Linked DNA regions of Homo sapiens. The protein of the gene in region 1 purifies or fractionates together with the protein of each later gene. This does not show direct contact. Each region holds a gene or a part of one and is shown on either strand. Other genes may lie near its edges.

Evidence for each region. Proteins that work in one complex are often made in the same cells at the same time.
Region 2: the proteins of SERPINA7 (region 1) and MIA3 purify together in Homo sapiens (affinity purification with mass spectrometry; 3 studies listed by BioGRID and IntAct, with this or other methods). This does not show direct contact.

What each region holds. Positions count from the first base shown.
Region 1 is NC_000023.11:106,031,928-106,035,756, forward strand, and holds the end of SERPINA7 (thyroxine-binding globulin precursor), read right to left. Parts: intron 3,459-3,829; coding exon 3,185-3,458; intron 2,456-3,184; coding exon 2,308-2,455; intron 1,838-2,307; coding exon of another isoform or gene 1,777-1,837; coding exon 1,573-1,776; 3' UTR 508-1,572; downstream 1-507. UniProt on the Homo sapiens protein: Major thyroid hormone transport protein in serum.
Region 2 is NC_000001.11:222,614,052-222,621,098, reverse strand, and holds the start of MIA3 (transport and Golgi organization protein 1 homolog isoform 1 precursor), read right to left. Parts: upstream 3,003-7,047; 5' UTR 2,989-3,002; coding exon 2,856-2,988; intron 1-2,855.

The sequences.
Region 1 (3,829 bases):
TTTACTCTGGCCTCTGGAGGTAGAGCCTGAGCTAGAGAACAGAAACCCGCAAATCAAGAGACTCACATTACAATCCTGGTTCTGATACCAGCCCACTGTCTGGTGTTGACCAACATGATTGAAACAACTAATATTTACAGGGCTTTTTATCAGGTCTCAGGCTCTGTGATGAGCATATTACATGCTACCTGCTTTGCAACATTGAAGGTTCACAAAATCCCAATGACATGGATATTCTTATTGTTCCCATTTTACAGATGAAGAAAATAAGGTACAGGGTTTAAGTGCCTTGTCCAAGATCACCAAACACTAAGTAGCAGGGCCAGGATTGTAATGTAACTTTAGTGAAACACAACTCCATGTTAACAATGAATTTTTGTACCAGAGATTCTGCTCTGGGCTTCAAAAATTGCTTACACAAAAGCAAAGTGTGAACTATACCAGGAATAAACAAACTTCCATGCAAATGGGTCTAATCAGAAAAAATTAGAATGTTTGTAATACACATGCTTTTCTAAACATAAATATTTATTTCAATATGGAAGTACAACATCTGCAACAGTACTTATGCATTTTTTTTACTATTTTCCTGTCACTGAAGTGTTTTACCTCAGGGCTAGAATTTCAGATACTACATCATTACCACTCACTGTGCCATTTATACTCAAGCTTTAAATACATAGTGTCTGAAATAAAATCTAGTTTGGTAGGTGGTAATGAGTTGGCATGTACAGGTAGAGGGAAGGTTGTTGAAGGATCTGGGGATACAAAAGTACCAATATTCAGTGAAATTAGAGCCAAAAAGGAGATTCCTACTTAAACAAGTGGGACAGGGGTGCTATATATGGAAAGGAGTCTGATTGGGATACAGAAAAAGAGGGTCTATGAGATATGACATGAATGAATTACTTTCTTTCTCCACTCCCAGCTTATACATTGGCAAGGTGGAAGTATGTTTTCTTGGGGGGAAGGTGGGGTTGGACAGGCAAGTTTATCTCTTGCTGTATTGTCCCATGCTTGTTCAGTAACTTGTTCAGTTGTCTCAGTCTGTAACTCATCCCCATAGTGGGAGTTCCTTTATTCAACCTACCAGTGTCAGATCTGGCAAGAACTCAGAGAATCCTACTAATGGGACAGTGGGAAGGGGGTTGAGAAGTTCACATATAAGACAATGCATCTGCATTGTTTTATGTCCATTGATCTTATTGGAGTACTGGGATACGAAGACCTGACCTGCTTTTTAGCTATTCCCCAGAAGACAGAAAAGGGAAAATTTTTCAACCCAGTCAAATTTATTAGAGCAAATGAGTTGAGGGGTATTCTGACAAAGAGAAATATACAAACATAGAGCCTTCCTATGCTTTGGATAATAATGAATTACTCATTGACATTCTGAATGCTCTGCCATAGGATTGGCCTCTTCCACAGCCAACAAAGTTCAGCCAGGGTTCAATCTTCATCCCATCATAAGGGAATGCAAGTCCAAGCTCACATCAATCACACCAGGCTATATTATTTATTTATTTCCCATTGCAATACACACGTGCAATTAGCCAATGGCCTTTTTCCCAACTACGCTTCCGTTGGGTTCACAACTTTCCCTAGAAAGAGAATACTCCTTGTGCTTCTCTCCAAAATCAACAACATGAAAGATCTATCAATTTGGATAATAGGGTGTAGGAAAGTGTTTTCAGGCTGATCCGAAAGTTCAACTTCAGGGACAGCTGCAGCTTCAGTTCCCTTTTCACCAATGTGCAGCACAGCCTTATGGGCAGCCTGTGTGGGGAGAACAAATCCTGCGGGTCTCTGAAGAAACAGGAACAGTCTTTGGGAAGGTCTAGAAGTAAGAAAGGGAAAGGAAAGGTGGGGCCGCCCCTTTGCTATACTATGTTGATGGTGCTAGAATATGAAGTTTCCTCTGCTAAATGTAGTCAATCATTCTCTGGCGATTCTACGGCTAGCCATTGGGAAACACCTCATTCACTATGGCCTGCTGCCGCCAGGAGTCACCTCTTAAGCATTCCCTCCTCACACCTCCTTCAGAACTGCATCTCACCAGAGTCACTTCTGATCATTAAGCTGTTCTATCAGAGTAATTCTGGGACATAAAGGTCAAGGATGGAAGAAACTGATACAATTACTTATTTGGAGTAATGGGAATGACTCTGGAGTGATTCTAGCTTAGGAGGAGTCACACCGCCTCTCTAGGCATCAGATTGCTAATTGGTAAAATAAGAAAGTTGAATCAATTGACTCCTAATTGCTCTTCCAGTTCATACATTTAAGAACTCTAGTTTATCAACTTACATTGGAAAGTTTCAGACCATTGTCCTCTGTGAGTCCAGAAAAATCAGCATTTTCAGAATAGGCATGCTGAATGCCCATCTTCAAAAGTGTGGCTCCAAGGTCATATGTGGCAGAAATGGAAAACTTTGGAACAAACAAGTCAACCCATCTGTGGGAAAAGAGGAAGGGAACACATGGCAATCACCATATCAAGCTTATGATTCTCTCCTTCTCTCTCTCATGATGGTATTATATTGGACTCTGCTTCTTCCCTGAGTATTGATAACCATTACTATGTAAGTCAATACATGGCACCAAACTCACAGAAGTTATTCTGAAAGGAATGCACTCAGGTACAGCCAATGTTGGACTGAAGCACTGGGAGTAGGGAGATGTAACTCCTTTATAATCAAGAGAAAATATCCCTGAGGTGACGACCAAGGTTGGGGAGCTAGTGGCATGAAGGTTAATGGGTAGCACCCAGGAGCTTCACAGTTTTCTGCCTTGCACTTCCAGTACAGAGTGGCTGCCCAATCACCTTTCAACATCAAAATCCAACCTGTTCTTTGAGCTCTAGTTGGTCTACAGGAAGCCATCAATTTACTAATAGGCTGACTTTGGGGAGCTCATCTTATCTTTCAAGACCAGACTTCCTAATTTGAAAAATGCCAATTATACTGCCTCCTTTGTAGGTTTGTTGATGTGCTTGGATGATATGAAGTATGTAGAATGCCCAGCCAAGGGCCTGGTAGACAGTATTTTCTTGGCATATTCTAGTGATCATACATAGCTGTTGGGTAGTTCAGGGTGATTCTTCTGCCTCTGGGTTTCTGCTGAACTCTGTCTCACCTGCACTTTTATGCCCACCTTCCACCCACACATCCTCTAAGGCATTTACCCCTTCTGTAGTAAGCGGTTCCACTTCTTCAGTGTTTTAGATGACATGGCAGCTTCCACTGACTCCATCTGTCCCTCCTTGGGAAGAACAAAGAGTGCCAGAGCATTCTTGCTGTAGTCCATTTGCAGAACTGTGCAGTTCAATTCCATATCCACTAGGTGATAGTATTGTTCCATCTGGTGCATCATGGGCACTTGAACAGTGGTGGTCTTGTCTATTAAGAAGCTGGAACTGTCTTCTGTCTTGGATGGATCAAAAGGATTTGCCCACTGGGCTTAAAATACAAAGAAAAGAGAGGTGTTTATTTTAAACCGGTATCAGTACCAACAAGACCTTTTCCATTAGTGATTTCATTTAGAAATTAAGATCACCACAGAGTTAGGTACCTACAGTCAACCAGTTTTACAAGTGACTGAGGATCAGGCAGAGAAAGTCATTTGTCATGGTCTCCCAGTTAACAGGTGGCAGAGCCAGGAATCATACCCAGGGCTGTTGGGCTCCACAGTCTGTATTCAAAACTACTATACCACACTAAGCCCATCAGAGCCATAGTTTCCTCTTCCATAAAAAGGTATAACGACATCCAACACACTAGGGAGAAGTGAGAAAACAGATCTGTTCTGCAATTTTAGCCAATCTATCTAT
Region 2 (7,047 bases), on another chromosome or scaffold:
TATTGATTTATCAGGAAATATAAGAATCCCACTATAAACAACAACCAAGTTTTTCCAGTACTCTCTGGAATTTCTTTCATATGCTCAAAGTATCTCAAATCCTTTGAGCTTTACTGCTATAAATCATACCTTCTGCAAGCAGACAAGGGAAAGGAAAACCTTCTCTATTTTTCTCTATGGATAATACTGAGAAACAAAAAGCAATGTGCCAACTACCACACATGGCTTTTCTCACCCAAGTGAAACTCTCGATTCCCTCTCTAACCTTCTAGTCCTCAATCTTTTCTGTTTCATATTCATAAAAAGCTTCCTTTTGCAAATGGGTAAATTCAAGCCCAGATGATGATTAACTTAAGCATGGCTACATGAACGGGTAATAGGGAACTAGAGTACCCAGGAACCCCCAAGAGGTCAATTAACTTGAACTAACCACTAAAAGGGTCTATCTTCAAGTGACTGTAACCAGTACTATGTAGCAGTAAACACTGTCAATTTCATTTGCAGCCAAGTTGTTCCCTTAGTACAGTGTCTGGATAAATTAATGGGAAAAGATATCTATCACACCCTACTATAGATTCAATTACATCACAAGGCAATATTTTCTGAAAGTAAATAATGTTGACTGTATCCAAAATTAAGTTTCAAAACAAAGGAAAGAATACCCTTATGTATATTTTTCTATAAACAAAATCAAAAGTCGACATCTCATTTGGCTGGGACTAAGCAAAACTATGAGAATAGGTCAGTAATTCAATCACGCTTGATCTAGAAACTGGCTGAAGCAGTACTTTTATTTTTGTTGACCACATACACAGTTTCCCATGTAAGATGAAATGGACAATAAATACATCTAAATAGCAGAGACAAAGAAGGACGAATAGAAATAAGATTTTTTCCAAAAGCCAATTTGCAATAAAATACATTAAAAACGTGCCTTTAAATGGCTATACACGCATATAGATTTGGAAGGGGCTACTTGTTTTTTGAAGCTAAACTCTGATTACTTTCCAACATGTCAGCTTTGTAGCTCAGATATAATTGAGTGTGAGGCCAGGTTTAAGATGATGGACAATTTAAGGTTGGGAATAAGATCAGAATTGAAAATGGCAATGTTTCTTTTGCTCCCCCTTACAATAGATCATAGAGGATTTATAATAATATTTGAGATGCCAACAAAATGCACCCTGTGGAACAGCTATTTGAAAACCACACAAGGGCACCGTACATACTCACATTACTAAACACTTTCTACAACACAACACAGACCCATCTAGACCTTGCTCCTGTTGATGCCTATTGTATTTGGTTTCCTCTGAACACGTACCATTTCTCAAGTTATGTTACAACCGTGAGCTCTTCTAACATCATGCCTCAGTACTGAAGAAGCATCAGTGATGTGATGATTCTCCAGGTAACCTGTTTTGAGGAACCCAGGCAGGGCAATGCTTGCAAGCAAAGAATACCAACTATCTTGCCATTGCCAACGGCAAATGGGTAACAGCGTGGCTTTGACCCAAGAAAACTAAAGGGAAAAATCATGGCAGTTGTACCGCTTTTGTAGTGTTTATTTACATCAACCACAGGGTTATCTCTAGGAATGGCTTCACACTCATTAGAGATCTCTTTTCTTGATTAGTGTTGTAGAGATACAAACAGTTCATATTATGAAATTCGGTTTTGATAACATCAATTTGAATATAAATAGCTAAACCATAGAGTTCTTGGCCTTCTTAAAATGAATACGTTTCTATAGGCATTGCTTAACAGTGTATGAAAAACCGTTTCTGCAGTGGCTATCAGTAAGTTACAAGGTTGAGACGGTCTGGGAGGCCCTAAAATGATCCTGGTCCGGCGAACATAGAGGGAAGAGGTTTCAACACGCAAGCGGCTAAGGCTAAACCAAGCTTGGCTTATGAGACCCTTGGAGTATTTACTGTCATTCCTGTAATAACCTTCTTCATCTGAGCCTGAAGATCTGTGCCCTCTCCACCGCCCACCTCCAATCCCAGACTGGAGAGCAATTCCGCTTCCTGCGCACAGAAGAGGAGGCTGCCGGTCCCAGGTGGCCGGTGCAGATCCTCGGTCTCTGCAGAGCGAAAGATTTTGGTCTTCCTGCAGTCCTGCCTAGCAGTCTGCAAGGCGGCTTCCAAGCACAGAAACGACAGGATTGATCAAAGTCGGGGCAGAGACCTCGGAATACAATGAGTGCTTGGACTCCAGACTCGTCCCAAACCTAAACTCCCAATTCCTGTTCAAAAGGCGGTACAAGCCCAAATCCCAATAAAGCAGAAGGGCAAAGGAGCAGCGCCAGGGAGCCTTTCCAAACAAACCCCACCATCAACCTGCCACTGGGAAAACGCCCACCGAGCCCTTAGCGCATCTGCCGGGGTGATGCACCCACCGAGGTCCCCGCAGCGCGGGCAGGAAAGCTTTGGTTGCGGCGTGGGGAGCCCAGACGCGCGGCGCGCAACCACATCTACCCTCCGAGCCCAGGCGGATTGGGGGGGTGGGAAGGGGACGCTGTGAGCCACTATTGGGGAAGCCGGGGACCACCGCAAGCAACCCCCCGCCTCAGCAGAGGAAAAATAAAACGCTGGCAACAAGTGGGAGGTGCAGCCCCCATGGTCAGGCCCGAGGGGCCGGGCGCAGGCAGAGCGGGAGAAGGCAGACACAGGGACCCGGAGCGCGCCCACCCCCGCGTTCAGCCCATCCCGCCTGCGACCCCCGGGCCGGCCAGGGGCTGCGGAACTCCCGTCCCCGCACAGCCCAGGCGGCGCCGCCGCGGAGACCCCCGGGGCCGGCGGAGACCCCAAGGCCAGCCGCCCCGAGGCCAGCCGCCCCTCCAGCGCACTCACTGCTGCATTCGTCGTCCGCGCAGAGTTTGTGCTCCGAGAACCGCCGGCCAGTGCTGGGGTCCAGCTGGCCCGGCACCCGCCAGGGCAGCCGGAGCACGAGCAGCCAGACGAGCAGCCCAGGCGCCGCAGCCATGTTGTGGTCACCTCGGGGAGCCGGTGACGCGGAGGAGGAGGCCGGGGCGGGCGCAGAGGGGCGGGACGGGGGCGGGGACGGGGCGGGGACGGGGGGGCTGGGGCGGGGGCTGGGGCGGGGACGGGGCGGGGACGGGGGCGGGGACGGGGGCGGGGGCGGGGGCGGGGACGGGGCGGGGACGGGGGCAGGGACGGGGGCAGGGACGGGGGCAGGGACGCGGGCAGGGACCAGGCGGAGCGCCGGGGGCATGTGGGAAGACAAGCGCAGAGGGGCGGCGCCCGCGAAGGTCTGAGCAGTTTCCGACTGACACGTCAGCAGAGGCTCTAGGAGGGATGCGGGAGACCTCCAGGAGGAGGACTGACAGCAGCCTCCTCCTCTCCTCGAAGCCTTCTCCTCTGGTCGCTGCCGTGGCAACCAGGACTCCCTCGCCCAATCACCTGCCTTTGCCCCAGTCCCTCGCAGCACCTCCGCGTGACTCCATTCTTAGTTCACCCCTCCCCGCGCGCTTGGGTCCCCCAACCCTGCGCCATCTCAACAGGTCCCTTCTGGCGCCTTCTCGCAGTTTCTGGTTTGTGGCCTGTCCCGAACCAGCCCCCCACTTCACCCCGCTACTTCACCCCGCTACCCCCACTCTTGGCATGGTACCTCCTTTTCTGAACTGCCAAATCCCACCCGCGATTTGCCACTGTTAGTCTCTGGTTTCAGGCTCCCTCCTTTTCAGCCTCCCAGGGCTTCCTTGGGGGCACCATCCCGTGGTGCTCTTTGATTAAGAAAGGGGGAGGTGAGTGGAATAGGGGGCTGAGGATATAAATCAGAGCCCGTGGCCTGCTTGGTCGTTGATAGAAATGGGTAATGGTCCTTGGGCTGAGATCTTGAGATTCCTAGATCTATATCCATAGGAAAAAAGTAAATTAATTTAATAACAGTGTGATGAGCTTCCATTTTATACTTATTTCATGCCAGAATTAAGATTAATCTTCACAACAATCGCACCTTAGAGTAGTAGGTCCTATTATGATCCCCATTTCAGAGATGACTACCTTAAGGCATTCAAACACCTAGTGAGTGATGGAGCTAAGATTCAAACCCAGGTAGTATGCTCCTTTTTAATCACAGCTCTGTAAAGCCTCCATCAAGCAACAAGCAATTTTTGTACTTTCTTTCTGAGCAGGGAAGCAAAATCTTATTTAAATCATACTATAACTGGATGATTTATATGTGCAGTTAAAAAAGCGGGGGACTGCATGAGCAGGTCAGCCCAGAGAAGAGTGGCTACAATGCTCTCCAGAAGAGTGGCTACAATGCTCTCCAGCCCTGGTTGAAGAACTTGGCATCTGTCTGTGACCAGCAGCTTCTCATTGCAATCTCTAAGGTTACTCATCAACCTTGAACAACAAACCCAGCAGCTGGTTTCCCAAACAAATCGTATTACTTAAAAGCAAGAAGAAAGAATGTGGCTTGTCTGTGCAATCCATTATATCGAATAAGGAAAAAACGGTAAACAGATGCTCACAAATTTTTGTCTGTAGGAGCCGTGAGAGTTCCTACTGGGCCAATGTAATTCCAATGCTGTCTTGAGAAATATACATTTGGTAAGGTCACGGACAAGCACTTTCTATCCAAGTAGTAGTTCTGTTCATTCTTCATTTCTTTTCTACTGTGTATTTATTTGTTTTAATATCTTAGATGTGTCTAATAGGCATCTCTAACAATATGTTGAAAACCAAACTCTTTATCTTTTTCTCTCAAACTCTGCTCCTTTCGGTCTTCCCTATTTGAGGAATAGGAATGACAATTTAATTCCTATCTTCTAGGTGCTTAAGCCAAAAACATACAAACCATCCTCGACCTCTTTTTTCTCACACCCAAGTCCAATCCATCAGACAATCCCATGTCTTTTTTAATAGCTTTGTTGAAGTATAATTAACCTACAATAAATTGCACATGTTTAAAGTGTACAATGATAATTTTTGACATATGTCTACACCCATGAGACCATTACCACAATGAAGTTAATTAACATATTCATCAACATCACCTCTGAAAGAGTTCTCATGATCCTTTATAATCCCTCCCTCCCTTGTCCCAGCTGTCTTCAGACAACCTTCTGTCACTGCAGATTGGTTTGCATTTTCTAGAATTTGATATAAATGGAATAATATCGTATACATTCTTTTTTTGTCTGACTCTTTCACTCAGCATAAACATTTGAAATACATTCAGAATCTGACCACTTCTCCCCATCTCCAGTGCCAGCAGTGCAGGCCAGGCCACCCATCTCTCACCTGAATAACTGCAATAGCCTTGTCATGTTCTTGCTTCTGCTCTTGCCCTTCCAAAGTCATAGTCTCAATAGTAGCTAAAGCAATTGTTTTATGAAATAAATGTGGTCATGCCTCTCCCCTGCTCATAACCTTCCCATGGCTTCCCATTTCCAAGTAAAATGCAATTACTTTTTTATGGAGTACACTGTCTTATTTAATTTTACTCCTCTGCCCTTTTACCCTCATTTCCTAACACTCCTCCCTTGCTCTGTTGGTTCCACTCAGATACACCAAGCCTAATCCTGCATTCGTGTATCTGCACTTGCAATTTTCCGTCAGCCTGGAATAATTCCCCAAATAGTCTGCCTGGCTAACTAGTTTCCTCACTTCATCGTGTCTCTGTAACAGTGCCATATCTTACAAGTGAGGCCTTCCCTGATACCCCTACGTAAAACAGAACTCCTTCTCATGACTAGCTGGCTCATCACTGTGCTTTATTTTTCTTTAGAGCGTTTACCACCTGCCTTATGTTTATCTACTTTACTGCCACCCAACCTCCAATATAAGCTCCATGGAAGCAGCGGATTTGTCTGTTTTGTTCACTGCTGTAATATCAGTGCCTAGAACAATGTCTGGAATATATAAGGTACTCAACAAATGATTTGTTGAATAAACCCACAGATCTTCACACATTATAAATATATTATGCTATTAACCTAAATAAAGCCTCCATAAAATGAATAGTACCAAAAGGGAATATACCATGAAAACAAGGCATTTGGTGTCTTCCCCTCAGTAGCATCCTTACCGCCAAGGACAGAACCTGAAATGTATTTACTGTTGAATGAGGGTGTATTTGTTGCAGAGGGAGTGGATGAAATAGCATGTATTTTTTCCCAATATACTACCAGAATATTAAAGCAGATTTAAAACATGATTTTATCTTATTTCTCCTTAGATTAGAATTAATAACAATTAATTGATGAAAAAAACAAAACTCCAACATGATCTAATCGAATATTATTACTTTACAAAGTGAATAATATTCACTTTGACTAATATTTACAAAAGCTTTTACATGAAAGGTCAGAGCTCTCTGTTACTGAAGAACTAGCTACTTAAGTGTGTAGATTTTATAGGGTTTTGATTTATTTACATTTTTGAAAAAATCATTTTCTTAAAAAGATATTGACAAGCCTGGTGGATAATTAGAAGACAGTTCTCAGCTGACCATAGTGAAGGTAGGGGTGGTGGTTCTTCCTCCTAGCATATATAAAATTAGGGGATGAATCAGAATTCATTTTCACTCATAGCGTTTGAATATGTGGCATTGATGTTTAACATAAACTCTAATCCTACATGTATTATTTGGTAACACTTCAAATGGAATTTTCAAATGGGTAAAGATTAAGTAAGAGTTAAAAATAAATTTGCCTAGTTTTGGGTGGAAGATACATAGAAATGTAACATTGGAGGGTTTCTGACCTCAGGGAATTTGCAGTCTAAATGAGAAAACAAGAGATAACTGAAACAAATAGGAGACATCGCAATAACATATATCATTGTAAACTTGCCATGGTGCCTAGCCATGAACATCCAGAAGGTCTAACACTGAAGTTACCAGTAAGAACCTAGAATCTATTGCCAATGATAAAATCTATTGCCAATGATAGAATCTATTGCCAATGATAAAATCACTCAGTGTTTAGAGAATGGAGTCAAACATTTATTGAGGACTATAGCTTCCATCCAAGATGGAGTAACAGGGACAGGATTTACCCTTTCACATTAAACA